7 linked regions of the Homo sapiens genome follow. The protein of the gene in region 1 purifies or fractionates together with the protein of each later gene. This does not show direct contact. Each region holds a gene or a part of one and is shown in the gene's direction. Other genes may lie near its edges.

Region 1 (3,500 bases):
AATTGCATCTGTACTGAACATGTAGACTTTTCCCCATGGATTTTGGTATCTGGGGAAGGTCTTGGAACCAGTTCCCTATAGATACATAGGGACAACTGTACTTACCATGTGCCAGGCATGTTGCTGGCACTTCACATTTAGTGACTCATTTAATCCCTTGAACAACCCTATGGGAAAGGCTCTATAATTATACCCAATCCATAGATGAAGAAAGTGAGGCACAGAGAGGTTAAGTAACTGACTCAGTGTCACACAGCTAGAAAACGATAGCCAGGATTTGAACCCAGACAGGCTGTGTCCAGAGCCACAGAGAGTTCTTCACTGCCATGCTTTTCTGTCCTGTTGATGTCCTTTGCCTTAAACTTGCGTCATCTTCTCTAGGCTCTCTGATGAAATGCCCTAAAAGTGGGCAGTTATTAAATGATTTTCAAGTGGAAAACTGCATGGGAGTTTAGGAAAACAAGTAGTCCACACCCTAGAAATGTTGAAAACTCCGCAGGAAAATGTTCATCAGCTTTTGAACATGCCACTGATTTGGCCGGGTGCAGTGGCTCATGCCTGTAATCCCAGCACTTTGGGAGGCCGAGGTGGGCGGATCACGAGGTCAGGAGATGGAGACCATCCTGGCTAACACGGTGAAACCCCCATCTCTACTAAAAATACAAAAAATGAGCCGGGCATGGTGGCGGGCACCTGTAGTCCCAGCTACTCGGGAGGCTGAGGCAGGAGAAGGGCGTGAACCCAGGAGGCGGAGCTTGCAGTGAGCTGAGATCGCGCCACTGCACTCCAGCCTGGGCGACAGAGCAAGACTCCGTCTCAAAAAAAAACCAAAAAAAAAACATGCCACTAATTTTTATTTGATTTGCTTTTTTTGGGAAAGCCAAGCGCCTTCTGTTTCCTTCTAAAAATGTGTGTGTGTGTTTTTGTTGTTGTTGTTGTTTTTTGAGATGGAGTCTTGCTCTGTCGCCCAGGCTGGAGTGCAATGGTGTGATCTCGGCTCACTGCAACCTCCACCTCCCAGGTTCAAGCGATTCTCCTGCCTTAGCCTCCCAAGTAGCTGGGACTACAGGCGCCTGCCACCACACCCGGCTAATTTTTGATATTTTTAGTAGAGATGGGGTTTCACCTTGTTGGCCAGAATGGTCTCGATTTCCAGACCTTGTGATCCACCCGTCACAGCCTCCCAAAGTGCTGGGATTACAGGTGTGAGCCGTCATGCCCGGCCCATAAAGTGTGGTTTCTAAAGCTGGTTGTCCCAACTTCATGAGGATAGTAGGAAGGTTTACATACTAAAGCACTTAGGGCCATGTGCTCATGCCTGTAATCCCAGCACTTTGGGAGGCCGAGGCAGGTGGATACCTGAGGTCAGGAGTTCGAGACCAGCCTGGGCAACATAGTGAAACCCTGTCTCTAATAAAATCCAAAAATTAGCTGGGCGTGGTGACATGGGCCTGTAATCGCAACTACTTGGAAGGCTGAGGCAGGAGAATCGGTTGAATCCGGGAGGTGAAGATTACGGTGAGCCACTGCACTCCAGCCTGGGTGACAGAGGGAGACTGTCTCCAAAATTGTAATAGTAATAATAAAAATATTAAAACAAAATAAAGCACTTAGAAAACAAGATGATTTGAGAAGTGTTTATTAAAAGAAAATGTGGGACTCATTTGTTTCCCTAATTCCAGCTGTCAATTAATTAGTGAAGTGTTACTTGAGGTTTTTTGATAGAATCTTCTTTTTCAGTTAAAGATTCTGAGTGCTTTGTTGGAGTTTCTTCATATCACCTATCATTTGCTTGTTAGCTTATCGATACCCATGGAACAGTTATTGACAGGACATTGGGTCGTTTTCCCAAGAGCATTCCTTGAATAAAACATTTTGCTGCCTTGCTAAGAGGTGTTCAGAAAATATTTCCACCAGGCCTAAAGTAAATCTAGCACCTCATGTCACATGACATCATGTCATCTAATGCTGCCAGTTACAGGAAAAGACATTAGAGTTTTGGGGACAAAGCCACAACACATCTGTTGAAATACAGCTAGAACAAGGGAGAAACATATGGGAATTGTCCAACTAATAGCTCTACCTTCACCCAGTCCGACTCCCTGCCTGCTCTTAAGGATTAAAATTGCCTCCGTATAAAAGCATTTTAAATTACGGCAGTTAAAGGCCGGGCGCGGTGGCTCAAGCCTGTAATCTCAGCACTTTGGGAGGCCGAGGCAGGAGGATCACGAGGTCAGGAGATCCAGACCATCCTGGCTAACATGGTGAAACCCCGTCTCTACTAAAAATACAAAAAACTAGCTGGGCGTGGTGGCTGGCACCTGTAGTCCCAGCTACTCGGGAGGATGAGGCAGGAGAATGGCATGAACCTGGGAGGCGGAGCTTCCAGTGAGCCGAGATTGTGCCACTGCACTCCAGCCTGGGCAACAGAGCAAGACTCCATCTCAATAAATAAATAAATAAACAAACAAACAAAAGAAAATACCATAAGCAGAAGACACAAAGAAGCTCCCATGGTGTGGCTCTTCATGTTTGTGGTAGATGCATTGAGACTTTTTTTTTATGCCTTCATATATATGTTTCTGATAAAACACACCTGTAATGTTTTTCACTGAAGAGTTGATTGAGAAAAGCTTTAAATATCATTTGTGGGGCCAGAGGCAAGAGTACAAATTCAGTTCCCATATCACATACCTAAACATTTAAAAGTTATAAACCATGCTTACAAATTGGTAAATAAAATGGCTTCTACTCTGCCTGGACAAATACATCTGTCATTAGGGCAGAATCAACAAACATGTTTAAAGCTATGGGTTTTATTGCTGAAAGTCAGCAAAATATCAAACATGAGTGAATTTAATTACAGTTGCCTATGTCTGGGTGTTCTGTTGATGTTTCATGAGTAATAAATACGTATACTCCATAGTATATTTTTCATAAATCTATTTTTTTGTCCATATTTTAGCAAACTCACTTGTTATGTGGTTAGAGTCAAGATTGTCACAATAGTTTGTTTTACGGACAGTAATACCAAGGTGGAGAACCTTTCTTTGTGGTTCTTAGATTGTTCTTTTTTTTTTTTTTGCTGGGACAGAGTCTTCCTCTTTCGCCCAGGCTGGAGTGTAGTGGCGCAATTTTGGCTCACTGCAACCTCCACCTCCCGAGTTCAAGCAATCCTTCTGCCTCAGCCTCCCACGTAGCTGGGATTACAAGTGTGTGCCACCATGCCTGGCTAATTTTTGTATTTACAGTAGAGACGGGGTTTCATCATGTTGGCCAGGCTGATCTGAAGCTTGTGACCTCAATTGATCCACTAGCCTTGGCCTCCGGAAGTTCTGGGATTACAGGCGTGAGCCACCCCACCTGGCCAGATTGTTCTTTTCTTAATCTAAGTCTAGAGATGGCCTGCTTTGCTGAGGCAGGACAGTAGTTACTGACATTGTCAGCGAAATTCATACAGCACTATTTAGATTAAAAAAAGAATGAGATTGCATATGATA
Region 2 (3,500 bases), on another chromosome or scaffold:
GGAGGATCACTTGAGCCCAGAAAGTCAAGGCTGCAGTGAGCTGTGATCTTACCACTGCACTCCAGCCTGGGTGACAGAACAAGACTCTTGTGTCAAAAAAAAGTGATGTTTACGTGTTTAAACTCTGTTTATGGATAGAGAGGAAAAGATGGGTGGCAGGCACATACATTCTACCTGGCACCTGAAGGCTGGAGGTCGATATGAAGGTAGATAGTGCGCTGTGGCAGGACATGGATAAATGTTACTCTGCTGTTCTGAGTTGCAGTTCTCTGTTTCAGTGATTAAGGAGAAATGCCTCAATTGATCACTGGAATAGCAATGGTGGGTTCCGACTGCCAGAGGGAGGCGAGGAGGTTTGGATGTGTGCTCTTGTAGAAAAGGGCTGTGCTACTGGTGTGCAGCCTCAGGTGCATCATAGGTTTCTCGTCACCAGCCTACTCTAGGTCCATGTCATTAGCTTTCTTTGGGTTCTCTCCACAATTACCATCTTCCACGAAAAACTCATTTTTCTCATAGGCCAAGCAAAAAGTAGGCCGGAGCACTTCATCAAATCCTTAATGACTGTTGAGCTCTAACCTGGACAGAGAACACTGACTCACAGGCACTGTTAACCCCAGGCCTTGCCTGGCTGTGGCCTCTAACTCCCCGGAACCACAGGGCCTGCCTCTGTGTCATGGCTGATTTAGGGTGGCTCATGCTGGTGGCTGTATCTCAGGAACCCAAGGCAAGGTGGTTCCCTCCATCCCTACCACCTTCTCCAAAATCTGCCTGGGGTCTGTCAGAGGTTTGGTAGCCAAGATGTGTCTCCATGTTCCAGCTGCAGAGCCTGAGTTGAAGTAAATAAAATCACTCTTTTCTCTTCAGGAAGAGATTCCGTTTTGTAAAACATCCTAAGTTAGAAGCCTTAAAAATCCTACTCTGTGCCCCTCTTTCTATTCCTTTCTTTCTTTCTTTCTTTCTTTTTTGAGACGGAATCTCACTGTGTCACCCAGACTGGAGTGCAGTGGTGCGATCCTGGCTCACTGCAACCTCCGCCCCCCGGGTTCAAGTGATTCTCCTGCCTCAGCCTCCCGAGTAGCTGGGATTACAAGCACCTGCCACTGTGCCTGGCTAATTTTTGTCTTTTTAGTAGAGATGGGGTTTCATCATCTTGGCCAGGCTGATCTTGGACTCCTGACCTCGTGATCCACCCACCTCGACCTCCTAAAGTGCTGGGATTACAGGCATGAGCCACTGCTCCCGGCCTCTGTGCCCCTCTTTCTAAGTGCTGTTCTGAGAATTAGTGACTCTAATTTCACTGGCAAATGCTTTAAAAGGCAGCATTCATACCCTCTCCCTTCCTTCCAGCTGAAGACTAGCCTTTTTCTGGCCAGGAGTGTGAAGCTTTCTGTAGGGCTGTTTTAAAGGCAGCCCTGCCACAAGCCACTAATTGGCATTCCCAAAACATCAGCATTGACATCTGGGAGTCTGCCCTCATCACCACCCACCACTTCTCTGATGTGGCCACTGCCATTGTCTCAAAATGACTTGGTTCCAATTCTGGGGCAATTCGGTACCGATATATGCCATCCTATGACTCTTAGAAGTCTAGGGTATACCAAATATTCCTTTATTTTCTCTGTCTAAACCGAATTCCCTAATTCCCGCCTTGGAGCGTCCCTCTGGATTGGCTGAGTCTCTGTGCACATGCACAGGTGCCTGCCCTTCTCCCTACTAGGTTGTGCCAAGAGTCCATCAGCATGGGGGCCCTCTGGTTGGTGGTCATGAGTCCTCACAGGGAGGCCTCTGCATCCTTATTTGCCTGCCCTCCTGAGGTCCTGCCATAACATACCTGTTCTTCCTGAGGACTTCTGCCGTCTTGAACACTGCCGATAAGTGCCAGCCCTGAAGCTCCGGGGCCCGCAGCCCTGCTGCTCTCACAGATCCCAAGGGAAACTTTTTTCCTAGCCTGGGAGATTCCCTTTCTCCCTCTTCTTCTCCCAGGCCAGTCAGCTTCTTCCTGCAGCTCCTCTCCAATTTCTTTCTCCCCTCAAACCTGTCAGGCTCTTTTGTGAGTGCAGGCTTTTTTCAAGTGAATAATTTGCTGGTTCTGACCAGATATCTACCTCCCCTGAGACAGTGAAACTCAGAATCATTGGCCCCTTCAATGGAGAGAAGACAGAGGGGAAAAGAGAGGAAAATGTGAATTAATTTTATTATATTTTATGGTCATAATGTCATTATGTTCAAATCACAGATACTTATTGTGTCCTGCCTTGTCCTGAGGACTGTGTGAGGCACCAGGAATCCAGATAATGAATGACACACAGCTGGGTCCCCCGAGGATCATAGTCTGATGGGGGAGATAGACGTACCACTGAGATTGTAGGGTGGCGTAAAATGCGGGAAGACAGAACCCAGAACTAGCCCAACAGAGAGGCTCTTAATTGAGGCCACTAGGAGACAGGGAGAACTTAACAGAATATATGGTCCATGCAGGTGGGGATTTTTTTTTCCTGTTTTGCTTATTGTTATAGACCCACAACCTAGAAATGGTGCTCTTGTAATATGACGTTTATTGCTGCATGAATGGATGAATAAGTGAGGAGGTGGTGGAGTCATTGAGAATGTTAGCAGAAGGTCTGTGGGGGATTTGGGAAAACAATATATTTGTCAAGGTGCCAGTGGAAAAGATATGGTGCAGTCATATTGGGTAATTGGAGGAAAGTTTAAGAAGGTGGTTATTTACAAAGGTGTGTGCAGTGCATGGGGAATCCACAAGAGATAGTGTTCTGCCACAGGGGTGATAGCAGTGGGATATGACCAACCCTAGGCCAAAAGGGGCAGGGGAGAGAGCAGTGATTGAAACCGGGAAGGAGGGAGACTCTATGGAGAGGGTCACCTTGAGAAGAACTGTGATCTTCAATTAAGGGACATAGCAGCCCAAGAGGACTGTGCAGGGAGGGAACCAGGAAATGAAATAACATGACCTTACTCTCTTCCCTTCCTCAGTCATCTACTGGGGCTCCTCATGGGTGAACCTCTTTGGAAGCCAGAGAGCGAGGGAGTCTGTTGTTATAGTCCACACAGGCCAGCCTCCTGGGGCATGTAGCCAGTGCAGAGTAGATTGGGAAAGGCAGACCGAGGCCATCCAGACAGTCGCTTTCAGGAAATCAGCACTTGTCTCACAGTGCCTGGACTTGGTCTTGAGGGGCCCTGGAAGTCATGGAACCTTTAGCTGGAAAAGTTATAGCAACACAAAGTTTCTGAAGGACTAAGCAGATATTCTTGTTTTACAAAAATTACCACTTAGCATCCATGGAGTAGCTTTTATGTTCTTTGTCCTTTTAGGCAAATAATCTCCCCAAAGCCATCGCCGCTGCTCACACCTTTCTACTGAAGCATCCTGATGACGAAATGATGAAGAGGAACATGGCATATTATAAGAGCCTGCCTGGTGCCGAGGACTACATTAAAGACCTGGAAACCAAGTCATATGAAGTATGTTTGGATTTTTATGT
Region 3 (3,500 bases), on another chromosome or scaffold:
ATGATCCTTGGAGATGTGACGCTGAGTGAAAGCCAGACCGCAGAGGCCACATAGCATATGAGTCCATTTCAATGAAATGTCCAGCACAGGCCAATCCATAGAGACAGAAAGTGGAAGAGTGGCTGCCAGGGCCTGGGGGAATGGGGTGGAGAATGGGGAGTGACTGTTCTTGAGGACGGGAGTTCTCGTTGGAGTGGTGAAATTAGATAGTAGCGATGATGGCACAACATTGTGAGTGTCCTTAAAGCCACTGAATTGGATGCTTTAAAGTGGTTAAAATGGCCGGGCGCGGTGGCTCACGCTTGTAATCCCAGCACTTTGGGAGGCCGAGGTGGGCGGATCACGAGGTCAGGAGATCAAGACCACGGTGAAACCCCGTCTCTACTAAAAATACAAAAAATTAGCCGGGCGTGGTGGCGGGCGCCTGTAGTCCCAGCTACTCGGGGGGCTGAGGCAGGAGAATGGTGTGAACCCGGGAGGCGGAGCTTGCAGTGAGCCGAGATCGCGCCACTGCACTCCAGCCTGGGCGACGGAGCGAGACTCCCTTCTCAAAAAAAAAAAAAGTGGTTAAAATGGTGAATTTTGTTATGTGACTTTTATCTCAATAAAGAAAAGAACGTGTTTTACAGGTGAGGCAGCCCAGGCTGATGTTTGGGAATTCAGGCACAGTCCCCGGGGCATGGGAGGTGGGGCCCTCACCCCTCGGGGTCTCCTGTGCCCTGGACTCCTCTGTCCTCACCTTCTCACATCCAGTTGGTCACCAGGCCCTGTGGATTCACCTGCGCAGTGTCCCTGAGACCATCCTTCCTTCTATCCCTGCTGCGTTGTTACCTACTGACCCCCAGATAGCCATGGCCTGGTGGGGCATTTCCCTGGAGAAAGGGGGCTGAGCACACACACCCAAGGTGTCCAGGCCCTTGGCTCTGGCCTCGTGTTGAGAGTCTGGCCACATCACGTGGCCTCTGAGCCTCCAGCCCTTATCAATGAAGGTGATTTGGATGTTGATGATGAAAGTGGCCATGACGTCTCTACCTCATCTGCCTCCCAGCGTTGTTACAAAGACCAAATGAGATGAAATAGAAGCATGTTTTGTAAACTGAAAAGTGGTGTGCCAATGTGAGTGGTGATGACGATCAGTTTCCTTTAAGAAGTAAGTGTTGTGGAGTCCCTGACCCTGGACTGCAGCTAGGATCACGCATTCATGGTCTGCTGAGAGCTGCGTGTTCCTTAGCTCCCGGGGACAAATGGATGACCCGTTAGACCACCCGGCTTCTTGTTGAAGGCGAACGTGCTGGTTACCCCCTCCGGTTTTGAGATAATCACCAGGAAGTGAGCTTGTCAGCTGCAGGCCAGTATCTCCTGTAGACAGGTGGTTTGTGTCCTTGGGTCTTGGTGCTAACCTACATGCTTCGTGCGGGACTCTGCAGGGACGTACTTAGATTCTAGGAAGAAACGCAGATTGATTTTTTTTTTTTTTTTTAACTCAGTGTGATCCTTTGACCAGTAGCATCAGCATCACTGGGAAGCTTCTTAGAAGCGTAGACCCCAGAGCTGTTTAATCAGAAGCTGCGTTTAAGATTTCCCCAGTGATTCAAATCCACACAATGTTTGAGAAGCAAACATATCGCTCTACGATATCATTAGGTGCCTGAGAAACCCTCACACCAGCAACTAAACGCCCTGAGAGAGCATCAGTTTATGCAAGTGGCTAATACAAGGTGAATGACTCCAAACCAGTGGCATCCCTATGTGCCAGCAACCACCACTTAGGAATTGTAATGAGATCTTGGTGATAATGGCAGTTAAAATATGAACTGTTTGTGAAGTAAGCTGAATAAGGATATGTGATCCCCTCAAGAGGCACAGAACTTTGTTGGAAAACACAAAAGGGGTCCCAATTAAATGGGGACACCAACGGTTTACAGCAGAGGTTCTCAACTGGGGGTGTTCTGCCCCCTTTGGAGGACATCTGCAATGTATGGAGGCATTTTTGTTTGTCATAACTGGTGGGGCCAGGTGAGGGGTGCTGCTCAGCACCCTGCAATTTACGGGATGGTTCCTACCAGAGAGAATGATCTGGCCCCAGATGCCAGTTGAGCTGATGTTGAACAATTTTGGTTTATCCTAGTGGGGTACACATGCACCCGCATGCACACGCACACACATGCAATGCACACATACACATGCACGCACATATTTTTATTTTATTTTATTTTATTTTATTTTATTTTATTTTATTTTATTTTATTTTATTTGAGACAGGGTCTCAGTTGGCCACCCAGGCTGGAGTACAGTGGCGTAATCTCTACTCAACTGCAGTCTCAACCTCCTGGGCTCAAGTGATCCTCCCACCTTAGCCTCCCTGGTAGCTGGGACTACAGGTGCCTGCCACCGTGCCCAGCTAATTTTTTGGTTTTTTTTTTTTTTTTTTTTTTTTTTTTTTTAGAGAGGTGATTTCTCCATGTTGCCCAGGTTGGTCTCAAGCTCTTGGGCTGAAGTGATCCTCCCACCTTTGCCTCCCAAAGTGCTGGGATTACAGGGGTGAGCCACCATACCTGGCCAATACACACATCACTTTAAAAATTCAAAAAATCAGGCTGGGCGCGGTGGCTCACGCCTGTAATCCCAGCACTTTGGGAGGCTGAGGCGGGTGGAATACAAGGTCAGGAGATCAAGATTCATCCTGGCTAACACAGTGAAACCCCATCTCTACTAAAAATACAAAAAATTAGCCAGGTGTGGTGGTGGGCGCCTGTAGTCCCAGCTACTCGGGAGGCTGAGGCAGGAGAATGGTGTGAACCCTAGAGGCCAAGCTTGCAGTGAGTCGAGATCGCGCCACTGCACTTCAGCCTGGGCGACAGAGCGAGACTCTGTCTCAAAAAAAAAAAAAAAAATTCCAGAATATCAAATGATATTTTGATAATACAGAGCAGTGGAGGGTGGGGGAACTTAGCATAGTGGATTGTGAAACAAATTTTAAAGTCATGATAATAAAAACAGTGTGGCATTGAAATAAAACTTAATGTGGATCAATGGAACAAAATAGCCCTCAAAGCCATTTTAATAAAAATGACTATATAAGATAGAACAAGCATAACACAGCCAATGGAAATGTGTTCAGAATTCATTGTTGACCTAATTGCCCTAGTCATAAGTGAAATATCCTCGGAGCCATATCCCGGGCCAAATTAAGAGCCATTTTCTTTGTTTCCTCTTCATACCCAGCACCCCCCTTGCCCCTCCTGTCTCTCTACAGTGTAGAGTCTCATTCCAAACTGCAAAGATTGAGGCAAAAAGAGTTGATGAATTTCTGGTCTACAAAGAGGATGAATTTCTGGTCCCTAAATAAGATCCATAATTTGAGCCTTTTTAAATTTTTATTTTTAAATTTTTTTTGGCTGGGCCCTGGCACTGCTGGCGGCACCCACATCTGTGCAATGGGCCCACCCAGACTTTGAGCCTTGATTGTAGGAAGGCTGTAGGCGTTGCAGCCAGAAAGG
Region 4 (3,500 bases), on another chromosome or scaffold:
AGACATGTTTGGTATAAATACCTCCTCTGTTTGCTCTACTCCTAACCAGGAGGGATGGTTGCTTTTATACAGACCGCATTCTGGAACCTTCTTTACAGATACCCAGCCCTTCACGGGCATCCCATCAGTAGGCGATTGCTATAGTTTGAACTTGCATTAGGTGTTTTACCCTTTAAAATACTGTGTCCCTGGAAAAGTAAAAATGAGGGTTGAGCTATTAAAAATTGGGACTTGACCCAGGAATAAATATTTTTAAAAATCATTGTATCTTTGAGAACACCCATCGCCCCCCTCTGGCCAGTCTTCCCTCAGTGCATGCTCACACTCCGTTTCTTCCAGCCCGGAATCTCCATCGAACGCCCTCATTTGCATTCTGAGTGCTGAGTGCTCCCAGACGGAGCTGCTTATTAAGTGCGGCTGGCTCTTCTCTAGTCAGGCCAGGTAGAGGCTCTGGGAGGCCCAGTCAGGGGGCTGCTCTCCCCAGCCCCCTTCCTGCCTCCCTCTGGTCACCAGAGTCATCCGGCCTCTCAGTGATGTATTTAGGAAACACGCCTGGGGAATTGCATCCCCCTCTCTCTTTCGGTTCCTGTGAGGAGCCCCAGGAGAGCCTGTTCTGCATTTCCTTGCGACAGACCCCCTCGAGGACGGTGCCAGACTCGGAGGCCCCCCCAGGGTGGGATCGTGCCGACTCGGGTCCCACGCAGCCACCTCTGTCTCTCTCACCCGCTCCCGAAACAAAGAGACCCGGACAGGCAGCCAAGAAAGAAACGAAGGAACCTAAGAAGGTAGTACAGCCTGCCCACGGTGCGCCTGGCGGCCGGGAGGGTTTGGGCAGGAGGCACGCTTCCCAGAGCGCCATCCTCTTAATTCACCACACATGCAAATAGCCTCCTGATACAAACAGCCGAGTGTCTACAGTGCACACGGCATGATGGGTGTCTGTGTATTTGTGCCTTCAGATAATAGGATAATAGCCCACCCAGGTCAGCATGGGGACACAGCCCGGCCCCCAGAGGTCGCCTCTGGCCACTACCTGTCAGACCCACCCGCAAGGGACCAGACGGCAGCCGCTGCTTTGTCACTGTGGTGTGTGCCTGCTGCCGGCTCACAGATCCTTTCTCCCAGCCGTGGACTTTGGGACTGCTTTCAGTGTGGGGCTGGGATCCGTCAGGCCCCAGGAGCCTCCTTGCCTATCTATTGGCGAATGCGCTTGTTTTTCTTAGGTGCGTGCCAAGGAGCTGAGGGTTTAGCTCGCAGGATGAGCGTGTGTTCAGCTTTAGGAGACACTGCTGAGCAGTTGTCCTAAATGGTTGGTTGCCCCAAGTCACACATCCTGCAGCAGAGGACAAGGGCCCTGGATATCCCTCATCTTCACCAATACTGGGCAGTGCCGGTTCTTTAACTTAGCCATTGTGCTGGGGCTGATGACATCTCATTGTGTCTTCCTCTGCATCTCCACAGCGAGGTGTGACGCTGGGCACCTTCTCGTGTCCCTGTTACCATCTCACCACTCTTTTGGGGCAGTGCTTGTTCAAGTCTCTATCCGTTGTTTTTTTTTTCCCCCATAAAGATGGGGTCTCACTATTGCCCAGGCTGGTCTCAAACTCCTGGGCCCAAGTGATCCTCCTGCCTCGTAGCTGGGACTGCAGGTGTAGCCACCACACCTGGCTTTCCTTTCCATTTTTAATGGTGTTCTCTTCAGGACTTGCAGGAGTCCTTTCTGTATTATGGATATAAGTCCTCTGTTAGGTGTATTTATTGTGATATCTTCTCCCAATCTGTAGATTGCCTTTTTACTTGTAATGGTTTTTTGTTTGTTTGTTTGTTTGTTTGTTTTGAGACAGGGTCTCACTCTGTCAGCCAGGCTGGAGTGCATTGGCATGATCTTGGCTCACTGCAACCTCCGCCTCCCAGGTTCAAGCAATTCTCCTGCCTCAGCCTCTCCAGTAGCTGGGATTACAGGTGCCCACCCCACTCCCAGCTAATTTTTTGTATTTTTAGTAGAGATGGGGTTTCACCATGTTGGCCAGGCTGGTCTCAAACTCCTGACCTCAAGTGATCTGCCTGCCTTGGCCTCCCAAAGTACTGGGATTACAGGTGTGAGCCACCATGCCCGGCCTAGTAATGGTATTTTATGAAAAATATCATTCTTCATTTTAATAAAGTTCAGTGATCAGATTTTTCTTTTATGGCTGCTGTCTTGAAAATAAACACACATTTAATTCCAAATTTGTGTGAGCTCTGAGATAAAACATGATACTTGAGCAGGTTTCCAGTGCATAGGCTATCACAGGCCTCCCCGGGACAGCTTGTCTGGCCAGTAGAACTCACAGAGAAACAGAATTGAGGGTGTGTAGTAGCTGCTGAGGCTTCTCCTCTTTCTTCAGTAGAAGTGAAGTGCATCAGGCCGGGCATGGCGGCTCACACCTGTCACCCCAGCACTCTGGGAGGCCGGGCGCAGCAGCTCCTGCCTGTCACCCCAGCATTCTGGGAGTCAGGGTGCGGCGGCTCACGCCTGTCACCCCAGCACTCTGGGATGCTGAGGCGAGCAGATCATGAGGTCAGGAGTTCACGATCAGCGTGGCCAAGATGGTGAAACCCCATCTCTACTAAAAATACAAAAATTAGCCATGCATGGTGGTGGGTGCCTGTAATCCCAGCTACTCAGGAGGTTGAGGCATAGAACTACTTGAACCCGGGAGGCAGAGGTTGCAGTGCGCCGAGATCGCGCCATTGCACTCCAGCCTGGGGGACAGAGCGAGACTCTGTCTCAGAAAACTAACAAACCAAAATGAAGTGCATCATGTGAAGAATAAAGTAAAGTTTCCTAATAACCGAATTCTCCACACATGGGAAACACAGAGGGCTGTATCTGCCTCCGACACACACTGACTTGGACAGCCCGCCTTCCACTTCTCAAAGGGGAGGACGTCGGAAGCTTTGTCAGTGTTTAGACGTAAAAAGTTCCTGAAGGCACGTTACTGTTCTGACCTATTTAAATGACAGTAAAATACACAGAACAAAATGCACATTTTTACCATTTTCTGAGTGCACAGTTCTGTGGCACCAAGTACATTCACACTGTTGTGTTGCCATCACCACCATCCATCTCCAGAACTGTCTCACCTTCCCAAACAGAAACTCTGTCTCCTTGAAACGAAACAACTCCCGGTTCCCTCCCACCTCCATCCTCCTGGTGTCTCTGGATCTGCTTCCCACCTCCATCCTCCTGGTGTCTCTGTGGATCTGCTCCCCACCTCCATCCTCCTGGTGTCTCTGTGGATCTGCCCCCCACCTCCATCCTCCTGGTGTCTCTGTGGATCTGCCCCCGACCTCCATTCTCCTGGTGTCTCTGGATCTGCTCCCCACCTCCATCCTCCTGGTGTCTCTGTGGATCTGCTCCCCACCTCCATCCTCCTGGTGTGTCTGGATCTGCTCCCCACCTCCATCCTGGTGTCTCTATGGATCTGCTCCCCACCTCCATCCTCCTGGCGTCTCTG
Region 5 (2,781 bases), on another chromosome or scaffold:
ATGTGGTGATTTCGTGAACTCAGAGGCAGCTTCCTGCAAGGGGTTGTTGGACATGAGCCATGAAGCGTAGATGGCCGTGTGCTGCTGTGATGAGAACCGGGGGCTCAGACAGACCTGGGGCTAATGACTGGCTCTTCAGCAGGGGCTAATTATTGGCTTTATCCTATGCTAGTGGTGTGGTCTCGGTAAATCATCTAGTATCTCCAGGACTCTTGTTTTCTCATCTGTAAGATGAAGGCGATAGTGTCAGTTTCGTAAGTTGTTATAAGGATGAGTTTAAATGATGCACGTATAAAAGCAGGAGCCCATTGATGTTTAGTGGAATCTCGACACTGAGTTTTTATCTTTCTCTAACTTTCTGTCTCACAGGATGTCTGGTGAGAATCCATCCTCTGTGAGCATCTGTGAGTATTCTTGAGAGATGCCTTGGGTTGGGAAAGCCAGGGACCCTGGGACAAAGTGATGTCACCTCCATTTACTGTCTCACCTCCCAAGAAGCTTCTGTTACTGTCTTGGGAAGGTTTCTGGGCTTCAAAGGAAATGTTCTCCCTTTTCATCCTGTGAAATGGTGACTGAGGTCATGCCCACCCTTTTCCCTTCCTGTTTCTCCCCTGGGACGTTGTCATTTGGAGAAAGGGTTGGTGGACATGGATTTTCCTAGCATTTCCAGGAGGGCAGGGACTGTATCTATCTGATGGGGTCTTCACCTCACACGAAGTCCGGCCCGTAATAGGCTCTCAGTTCATCTCTGTAGTGCTTCTTGACTACTGAGGGTGGTTCTGCGGATTAAATGAGGTGTTGTTGTGGAGAAGCCCTTGGGGACAGCCGTTACCATAGCTGTTATCTGCTGATTGACACTGCTCCTCTCCCCTGCTCTTGGCCCCTCCTCCTCAGCTGTCATCAGCAGTAGCAGCTACAGCTACCACCACCCCAGCTCTGCGGGTGTTGACCTTGGGGCCAGCGCTGTGGCAGGCAGCTCTGGCAGCACCCAGAGCGGGCAGACCAAGACCACAGAGGCGCGAGGGGGAGACCTCAAGGACACCCAGGGCAAGAGCACCCCAGCCAGCATCCCAGCAAGGAAAGCCACCCGCTAGACCCATGGCCTCACCCACCTCAGCACTTGGAAGAAGAGGTGACTTTGCCACCCCCAAAGGTGTCTGCCACACCCAAGTTCCCAGGCCCTGAGTTTTAAAACTGTCTGTAGTACACTCAACTGTCTGCATCGTGGTTTAGCTTTTACTTTCAAGCTCTGATTGACACAGTCACCTTCCCTGTTTCCTTAGGTCCCATGTGGACTAACGACTTCTCATTTTCCTCGCTGCCTTTGGCTGGCAGGAGGCTTTGGAGGCACAAGCCATTATAACCTTCTTGGCCCTAAGGAAGCTGTGATCATCCCTAGAAAGAGGGAAGGAGCAGGAGACGACAGGGGAGGGGCTGGTTTGTTCTGTGCTTAGGCCAAGTTAGCTACTGTCTGAGAGGTTTTACATCCCCTGCCAGCATGGTGGGGTGACACGAGACCTGTAAGCAGGTGGTGAGAAGTTAGACAGCCTTTACTTGCTCCATCAGAAACAACTTTGCAGGATGACGCCAATATTTAGGACACCACGTGTACATCTGTAGACCACCAGCTGCACCCATCTCCACAAAGCCAAGTGAAGGTGTATTGGGGATTCTCTGCCAGCCTGTGTCACCCACCCACCTCCTTCATTATCAGCAATAGCTACCATCATTTGTCAAGCACCTACTAGATGCCAGACACCCTACACATATTGCCTCCTGTTCTCATCCATTCCTGCAAAGAAGATGCAATGAGCATCCTTGGAACAGACTGGGAGCCTGATCCCAAGAGGCTGCTGAACTGGCCCCAGTCACCCACCTATGTGCCAGAGTCAGGCCTGGCCGACACAAGGATCTATGCTTTTTCTGTGGTGTGTCACTGCCTTTTTAACAAAAGGGCTGTCAAAGTCACCATTCTTTTTGATGAGGGCAGCGTAATTACATTGCCTTTTGTCAGGACTGTGGGTATGTGATTTGTCTTCCACAGTCTCTCTGGGGCTGTGTCCTACATAGCTTCTGACTCTCAATTTTTGGTGCCATGAGCTGAGCTCAGTGAGTGGAGCTGGCTTTTCTGTCGCTGAGTGCTACTGCCTAGTCCAGATGTCGTGGCTCAGGGTGTAAATATTCCTAAGAATGGCAGCATCTATTTCCTCTTTTGTTTGAATTAAAGACTCTGAATTTCTGCTGTATATTCATTAAGTTGTCCTTGAGTGTTGTCAGAGGTATGCTTCTGTCAGTCTGTTAATCTTTCCAAATGTTCCACCCTCTAGTGATGATGTGCCACCCTCCATTTCTCCCCAGCAAGCGTGCAGGACTCTTGCTGGGAAGCTGCAGGCCAACTCAGATGAGGCTGCTCTGGAGGCAATCTCAGGCTGCTGGAAGAGACAGATACACACTCATGTAAATCAGGGAAGGGCAGCCTAAGGCAGCAATGCTAGTAAGGGACTGGAATAGAGAGGCTAAGCAAGGAAGGCTTCCTGGAAGAGGAGGAGAGTTTAATTAAATAACCAGAAAGATGGACACATGGGCTCCTGGAGAGGGAATTTAAATCACAGCAACATAGTAGTTTGGACACAGGCTTTCATGTGCTTATTTAGTAGGGGGTGGGAGATCTCAGATTTTCCAAAGTCAATACAGATTGGGTATACCTTATCCAAAATTCTTGGGACCAGAAACATTCCTGACTTTGGATTTTGAAATGTTTGCATGTGCATAATGAGATAC
Region 6 (3,500 bases), on another chromosome or scaffold:
TGGTCAGAAGTCCACACATGTGGTGGAAGGTTCTTAGCCATCTTTTTTGAGGAAGTGTCAATGTCAGTTTCTATTGTCTTATCCCTGCATTTGATAGAGGATTAGAATGGAGGCAGATAAAGATTCAGTGAGCATCCTTACACCTCCAAACTTGCTTCATTTATCTTTTCCTCATACCTGCTTTAGTATGGATTTTAAGCTTCGTTGGGAAGCGTGTGGAGCTTGAGAAAGGGGAATTCTTCCTCCCCGGATTTTAAGTTTTGTTGGAAAATTCATGAACCTTGAGAAAGGAAAATTCTTCCTGTCTGCCTCAATACACTGTGCTGCATTGGGAGTGAATGGACGCCAAGTCCGGGATCTGGCCCTGACCTCTAGTGGGCTGCTCAGCCCTCCCACTTCGAATTGTCCCTCTCCTACCCCCTTGCTCCTGGCCTGGCCTTTTTCTCCACCCTCTGGCCTTTCCACCCCAACCCAGGCTGTTTTCAACTCAGTCTTTGATAACAAAACAGAAGCAGTGGGGGGTGGGAGCGGATTAGGAGCCAGGCCTCCCCCTGGTGGAGTGGAACTCAGGGAAAATGACAGGAAGTGTGCCCTCCTGCTGCTTCTGACACTCTGCACCCCCGTCTGGCATCAGGGTCCCAGGCTGCAGCGACCGAGAGCTAAGAGGCCTCAGATGCCCACTCCGTGACTCTCATGTCTTTCCTTTTTCCCCTCAATCTACCATCATTCTGACAACATCTACAGAGTTAAACTTGGGGCTGCGCCAGGGCGATGTTCCAGCTCTCATCTCTGACCTCTCCTCAAGAGTTTTTTCCTGGCATCCTTTCTCTGCCTGGACCTGTCCCCACTCTGCTCTCAGCTCCTCCCAGGCAATCTTTTCTAATTGATGCAGAATCCTGTAGACATTTATAAATAGCCTTCCTTCCTCCCCACCCTCCCCCCAACACCTTCAGCCACTTATTTAAGAGTGTTTTTCTTTTTTAGACATAAGCTGTTGAATTGGGCCCTTCTCTCAGACCCTCACCCCAGCTTGGGCCAGGTGGCAGGGTGGGAGCACTACTCCTGGGGCACCCGTTCCTCTGGGGCCAACTTGGATGTGAGCTTCCTGAGGGACATGTGCCTTTTTCCAGTCATGCCAACTTTCCTTTTTTTTTTTTTTTTTTTTTTAAGACAGGCTATCACTCTGTCACCCAGACTGGAGTGCTGGTTCACTTCAGCCTCCAACTCCCAGGCTCAAGGGATCCTCCCACCTTGGCCTCCCAAATTGCTGGGATTAGAGGCATGAGCCACTGCCCTGGGCCTCAACAGTTGTTAGATTTGAGTCTTTGGATATAGACAGACCTGGCTCTTTCTTGAGTGGAATTCTTCCCCTGCCTCCTGTGGCCTGTTTCCCCCTCCTAAAGAGTCTACCTCCTCAGAGCTCTGAGGGGTTGAGGAATTGCTGGGGCACTTGCCTCTCACCTCATCCCTGCCTCCAGGCCTCGCAAAGTGAGGTAATGTGGTGGAGGGGAGCTGGGGGCGGTAGGTAACAGCTGGGGGATTAGACTCATTCTGTGTTTGTGCCCTGTTCACAGCTCCTCTGACAACTCCTTAGTGACAGGGGCAACAGCTTTGGTACACACAGGGTGGTGAATGAGGCCCCGCCCTCCCAGGGGTCCTCCCCAGACCCAGCCCAGAGGGAGGCTGTGCTGGAGCCTGAGCTGGCCAGGAGAGTGTGTACTTGGTTCCTGTTTCAGTTGCTTCTGGGCCCTCAGGGCACTGAGCCCTTCCTTGCTCCTGTCAAGAGGGATTAGGGTCTCTGCTGGCAAGGGGAGGAGGGCGGATACCGGCAGGGGAGAAGAGGCTGGGAAGGTGCTACTGGTAGAGGGAGGGTGTGGAGTGCACGAGACTGTCCACACTCTGGTCTGCAGCCGCCACTCTGTGGCACTGAGTCATGTCTTTGGCTTCTTGGGGCTTTGGTGGTATGTGTGTATTAGGGGGAGACCCAAAGAAAGGGCTCCATCTTCCCCCACCAAAAATGCAGAGAAACATTTCTGTTGATTGGACATTGTTTGAGAGGAGACACATAGGGTAGAGTTGTCTGGGGAGTGGCCATCGTCCTGGTTGGCCTAAGGGACCATTGTAGTTGGAAGTAAGGGCTAAGATGAAAGATCATTTCCTTCTTTGTGATCGGCAATTCCAACGTAACCCCATTTACACTGATTTAGGGAGAGGCAGCAATGTGTATTGGTCACTTCATTAAGTCTTCCCACTTGTTTTTGGAAATTCAGGTAATCTTATCCCAGTTTACTGTTGAAGAAACCAAGGCTTAAGGAGGTGAATGTCATTTGCCTGAGGTTAGCGGCTGTTAAGTAATAGGAGTTAGGATTTGAACCCAGGTCTGTTGGATTCTGAGGTACAGGTTGAGGGACCAGCATCAAGATCCTAACAGTTCAGACTCTAAGGGTTAACCTTCACTCCTCCTCTAGGTTCCTAACAGCTATAGACCAAGGAGGCAGAGGAATGTACTCAAGAAAGAATCTGTCAGGGAGGCCAAATATTCCCCCCACTTCCACCCCTCTGAGTTCTCTGGGAAGGCTCAGGAGGGGTCGGGGGAGCTTTGTCCAGGAGCAGGAGAGTGGATCAGGAGGTTTATGATGGCTTTCACTGTGAGGGCTGGGCGGTCCCCTCTGAAGAGGGCACGCTGTACAAGCCTCACCTATACACTGTACAAGTACCTAGTCGTCCAGGACATCAGCATTCTGTCCGAAGTGCTCTGTGGTTGGCAGGTAGAGAGTGGGTTTTAAAGACCCATGTTGGGGTAGTCCGTCCTGGCTTTTAGCGTGAGAAAGCACCTCCACCCTATCCAGAGACAGAAATGCAGCAGCTACCCTCTTCTGAGCTGAGGCAAAGGGAGGGGCTGGCCGGGTATTTCCCAAGGATCAGGGTCTGGATCGGCTGTCTTTTGGCTCTGGAAATGGAGAACACTGTGTTTCCTACACCGAGGCCAGTTGGATAGAATGGGTCAAAGGCAGCTGTGGGGTCCCCCACCCAGTTCTGCAATGCTGGGTGGAGAGGGTGGGCTGGGGGCTGCTCTGCCTGGGTGGAGTCTAAACTAGTTAATGTGGATCAAGCCACACCCCTCCTGGCTTCCCGGGGAGAGAGGCAGAGGAGGAACCCAGGCTGAGCAGAGAATACACCATGAACAGAAGTCAAACAGTGTGGCCTTGGGGATGGGCTTAGGTGGTCTCCCGTGCATGCTGCTTTCCCCCTCATCCATCCCCAGTTATCTTTGGAGAGGAGGGAAGGATGGACTTGAGGTGGCGGGGCTGAGATCCAGGGCTGAGAAAGGCACCAAGCCCCTCTAGTCCTACTCTCAGAAGGGGTTAGTAGCACCCCGCTCTAAGCACCTGAGCTAAGCAGCGGCCGTCTGAGGCTGGGAGTGGGGATGCGGGAGCAGCCTCTGCTGGAGACACGCACAGGCTTCTGTGCTGGTGCAGGTGGGCATAATTCCTTTCCTG
Region 7 (3,321 bases), on another chromosome or scaffold:
TTGCAGGCACTCGAGCATAGAGCCCCATGTAGACCTGGCCCCTGTAAGCTGACCTGCAGCAGGCCAGACCAGGCCCCATGTGTGCACCCTCCTCTCCTGGCCTTTGTGTCCTCCTTAACTAACACGGGCTCTCTTGTCCCCCTGCCTTGGTACAGGCCCAGTTTGACCTGGCCTTTGTCGTCCGCTACAAGCCTGATGAGCAGCCCTCACTGATGCCACACCATGATGCCTCCACCTTCACCATCAACATCGCCCTGAACCGAGTCGGGGTGGATTACGAGGTGAGCAGGAGCCAGCCGGGGTCAAGGGGCCGGCAATGGGGATGAGGAGGGCTAGCTGAGGAGAGGCTTCAGGGTGGTTGAGGCAGAGGGGCCCCAGGTAACCAGTGCCAGAGAACCAGAAAAAAAAGGATGTGGGTCTGTGGGAGGGCTTCCTGGAAGGGTTCACAGTCTAGCAGGAGGAGGGGCCAGGCTCTTAAGCTACTATTTTAAGAGATTTTTGGGCTCGGCATGGTGGCTGATGCCTGCAATCCCAGCAGTTTGGGAGGCCAAGGCAGGCAGATCACTTGGGGCCAGGAGTTTGAGACCAGCCTGGCCAACATGGCGAAACCCCATTTCCACTAAAAATAGAAAAATTAGCTGGGCGTGGTAGCACACACCTGTAATCTTAGCTACCCAGAAGGCTGAGGCATGAGAATCTCTTGAACCCAAGAGGTGGAGGTTGCAGTGAGCTGAGATCATGCCACTGCACTCCAGCCTGGGCAACAGAGCGAGACTCTGTCTCCAAAAAAAACAAAAAGAGGTTTTTTGAACTTAGCCCTGGGCTGGGTGCTGTGGAGAACACTCATAAAAACAGCTATAATCCTTTTTTTTTTCTTTTTCGAGACAGGGTCTTGCTCTGTCACCCAGGCTGGAGTGTAGTGGCATGATCACAGTTCACTGCAGCCTCAACCTCCTGGGCCCAAGCAATCCTCCCACCTCAGCCCCCCCAAGTAGTTGGGACCACAGGCGTGTGCCACCATGGCCAGCTAATTTTTTTTCTTGCTTTTAGAGATGGGGTTTCACTATGTTGCCCAGGCTGGAGCTATAATTTTTTGAGAGCTTACAACAAACATATCAGGCATCCCTAATCCAAGGATTCTCAACCAGGAGCAACTGTGGCCTGCAAGGGACATTGGCAGTACCTGGAGACATAATTGGTTTTTACAACTATGAGGGGCTACTGGCATCTAGTGGGTAGAAGTCAGAGATGCCCGGGACAGCCTTCCACAGCAAAGTGTCTATAGTGGTGAGGTTGGGAAGCTTGATCCTCAGCTCTCAATTGTAACATCTCATTTAATTCTCACTATCCTGTTCTGTTTAACCCTCATTTTACAGAAGGGGAAACTGAAGCTCAGGTTGGTCACAGTTAGTAAAGAGTGGAGGTGATGTCTGCCCAGGGCTGCCTGACTCCAAGGACAGAGCTCTTGATCACTTACTCTTTGGGTTTTTTTTTTTTTGAGACAGTCTCATTCTGTTGCCCAGGCTGGAGTACAGTGGCGCGATCTCGGCTCACTGCCTCCTGGGTTCAAGTGATTCTGTCTCAGCTTCCCGAATAGCTGGGATTACAGGCGTGCGCTGCTACACCCAGCTGGTTTTTGTATTTTTAGTAGAGATGGGGTCTCACCATGTTGGCCATGCTGGTCTTGAACTCCTGACCTCAGGTGGTCCACCCGCCTTGGCCTGCCAAAGTGCTGGGATTACAGGCGTGAGCCACCACTCCTGGCCACTACTCTTCATTTAGTGTCTTCCTTAGCAGCGCTTGTGGCTGTCACTCCAGAAGGCATCCCCAGGCAGGCAGTGCTGAGGGCCACTTGGCCATGACAGGAGATCATGACGGGAGAACAGACGGGCAGGGGGGCGGTGGGGAAAGGCCACTGATGCTTTCTGTCTCCCAGGGCGGGGGCTGTCGGTTCCTGCGCTACAACTGTTCCATCCGAGCCCCAAGGAAGGGCTGGACCCTCATGCACCCTGGACGACTCACGCATTACCATGAGGGGCTCCCCACCACCAGGGGCACCCGCTACATCGCAGTCTCCTTCGTCGATCCCTAATTGGCCAGGCCTGACCCTCTTGGACCTTTCTTCTTTGCCGACAACCACTGCCCAGCAGCCTCTGGGACCTCGGGGTCCCAGGGAACCCAGTCCAGCCTCCTGGCTGTTGACTTCCCATTGCTCTTGGAGCCACCAATCAAAGAGATTCAAAGAGATTCCTGCAGGCCAGAGGCGGAACACACCTTTATGGCTGGGGCTCTCCGTGGTGTTCTGGACCCAGCCCCTGGAGACACCATTCACTTTTACTGCTTTGTAGTGACTCGTGCTCTCCAACCTGTCTTCCTGAAAAACCAAGGCCCCCTTCCCCCACCTCTTCCATGGGGTGAGACTTGAGCAGAACAGGGGCTTCCCCAAGTTGCCCAGAAAGACTGTCTGGGTGAGAAGCCATGGCCAGAGCTTCTCCCAGGCACAGGTGTTGCACCAGGGACTTCTGCTTCAAGTTTTGGGGTAAAGACACCTGGATCAGACTCCAAGGGCTGCCCTGAGTCTGGGACTTCTGCCTCCATGGCTGGTCATGAGAGCAAACCGTAGTCCCCTGGAGACAGCGACTCCAGAGAACCTCTTGGGAGACAGAAGAGGCATCTGTGCACAGCTCGATCTTCTACTTGCCTGTGGGGAGGGGAGTGACAGGTCCACACACCACACTGGGTCACCCTGTCCTGGATGCCTCTGAAGAGAGGGACAGACCGTCAGAAACTGGAGAGTTTCTATTAAAGGTCATTTAAACCACTGAAGGGAAGATGCTCAGGGCGAGTGGGTGTGTGTGTGTCTTGGTGTGAGTGTCTGCAGGGAGAGAGGTTTTAAGAGCCCTCTTTTTTTTTTTTTTTCTTTTTTTGAGACAGAGTCTCACTCTGTCTTCCAGGCTGGAGTGCAATGACGCTATCCCCGCTTTCTGCAACCCCCGCCTCCTGGGTTCAAGTAATTCTCCTGCCTCAGCCTTCCGAGCAGCTGGGGCTACAGGCACCCATCACCACGCCTGGCTAATTTTTGTTTTTTTATTAAAGAAAGGGTTTCACCAGGTTGGTCTGGCTGGTCTTGAACTCCTGACCTCAGATGATCCACCCACCTCGGCCTCCCAAAGTGCTGGGATTACAGGCATGAGCCACCGTGCCCGGCCAAGAGCCCTCTTTTTAGAGCCTTTAAGAAAGGTCATGCTAGCCTCTCGACCCCTGAGTAGCTGGGATTATAGGTATCCATGCCTGACACATTTTTGTATTTTTTGTAGAAAC

Evidence for each region.
Region 2: the proteins of MYO10 (region 1) and CRTAP purify together in Homo sapiens (affinity purification with mass spectrometry, with the first as the bait; one large-scale study listed by BioGRID). This does not show direct contact.
Region 3: the proteins of MYO10 (region 1) and COTL1 purify together in Homo sapiens (affinity purification with mass spectrometry, with the first as the bait; one large-scale study listed by BioGRID). This does not show direct contact.
Region 4: the proteins of MYO10 (region 1) and SEC16A purify together in Homo sapiens (affinity purification with mass spectrometry, with the first as the bait; one large-scale study listed by BioGRID). This does not show direct contact.
Region 5: the proteins of MYO10 (region 1) and KRT74 purify together in Homo sapiens (affinity purification with mass spectrometry, with the first as the bait; one large-scale study listed by BioGRID). This does not show direct contact.
Region 6: the proteins of MYO10 (region 1) and SPRYD3 purify together in Homo sapiens (affinity purification with mass spectrometry, with the first as the bait; one large-scale study listed by BioGRID). This does not show direct contact.
Region 7: the proteins of MYO10 (region 1) and PLOD1 purify together in Homo sapiens (affinity purification with mass spectrometry, with the first as the bait; one large-scale study listed by BioGRID). This does not show direct contact.

Annotation. Positions count from the first base shown.
Region 1 is NC_000005.10:16,926,289-16,929,788, reverse strand, and holds part of MYO10 (unconventional myosin-X), read left to right. Parts: intron 1-3,500. UniProt on the Homo sapiens protein: Myosins are actin-based motor molecules with ATPase activity. Unconventional myosins serve in intracellular movements. MYO10 binds to actin filaments and actin bundles and functions as a plus end-directed motor.
Region 2 is NC_000003.12:33,117,014-33,120,513, forward strand, and holds part of CRTAP (cartilage-associated protein isoform 1 precursor), read left to right. Parts: intron 1-3,330; coding exon 3,331-3,480; intron 3,481-3,500. UniProt on the Homo sapiens protein: Necessary for efficient 3-hydroxylation of fibrillar collagen prolyl residues.
Region 3 is NC_000016.10:84,590,579-84,594,078, reverse strand, and holds part of COTL1 (coactosin-like protein), read left to right. Parts: intron 1-3,500. UniProt on the Homo sapiens protein: Binds to F-actin in a calcium-independent manner. Has no direct effect on actin depolymerization. Acts as a chaperone for ALOX5 (5LO), influencing both its stability and activity in leukotrienes synthesis.
Region 4 is NC_000009.12:136,448,541-136,452,040, reverse strand, and holds part of SEC16A (protein transport protein Sec16A), read left to right. Parts: intron 1-632; coding exon 633-785; intron 786-3,500. UniProt on the Homo sapiens protein: Acts as a molecular scaffold that plays a key role in the organization of the endoplasmic reticulum exit sites (ERES), also known as transitional endoplasmic reticulum (tER).
Region 5 is NC_000012.12:52,565,282-52,568,062, reverse strand, and holds the end of KRT74 (keratin, type II cytoskeletal 74), read left to right. Parts: intron 1-369; coding exon 370-404; intron 405-894; coding exon 895-1,094; 3' UTR 1,095-2,281; downstream 2,282-2,781. UniProt on the Homo sapiens protein: Has a role in hair formation. Specific component of keratin intermediate filaments in the inner root sheath (IRS) of the hair follicle.
Region 6 is NC_000012.12:53,069,391-53,072,890, reverse strand, and holds part of SPRYD3 (SPRY domain-containing protein 3), read left to right. Parts: intron 1-3,500.
Region 7 is NC_000001.11:11,972,717-11,976,037, forward strand, and holds the end of PLOD1 (procollagen-lysine,2-oxoglutarate 5-dioxygenase 1 isoform 2 precursor), read left to right. Parts: intron 1-155; coding exon 156-281; intron 282-1,936; coding exon 1,937-2,092; 3' UTR 2,093-2,821; downstream 2,822-3,321. UniProt on the Homo sapiens protein: Part of a complex composed of PLOD1, P3H3 and P3H4 that catalyzes hydroxylation of lysine residues in collagen alpha chains and is required for normal assembly and cross-linkling of collagen fibrils.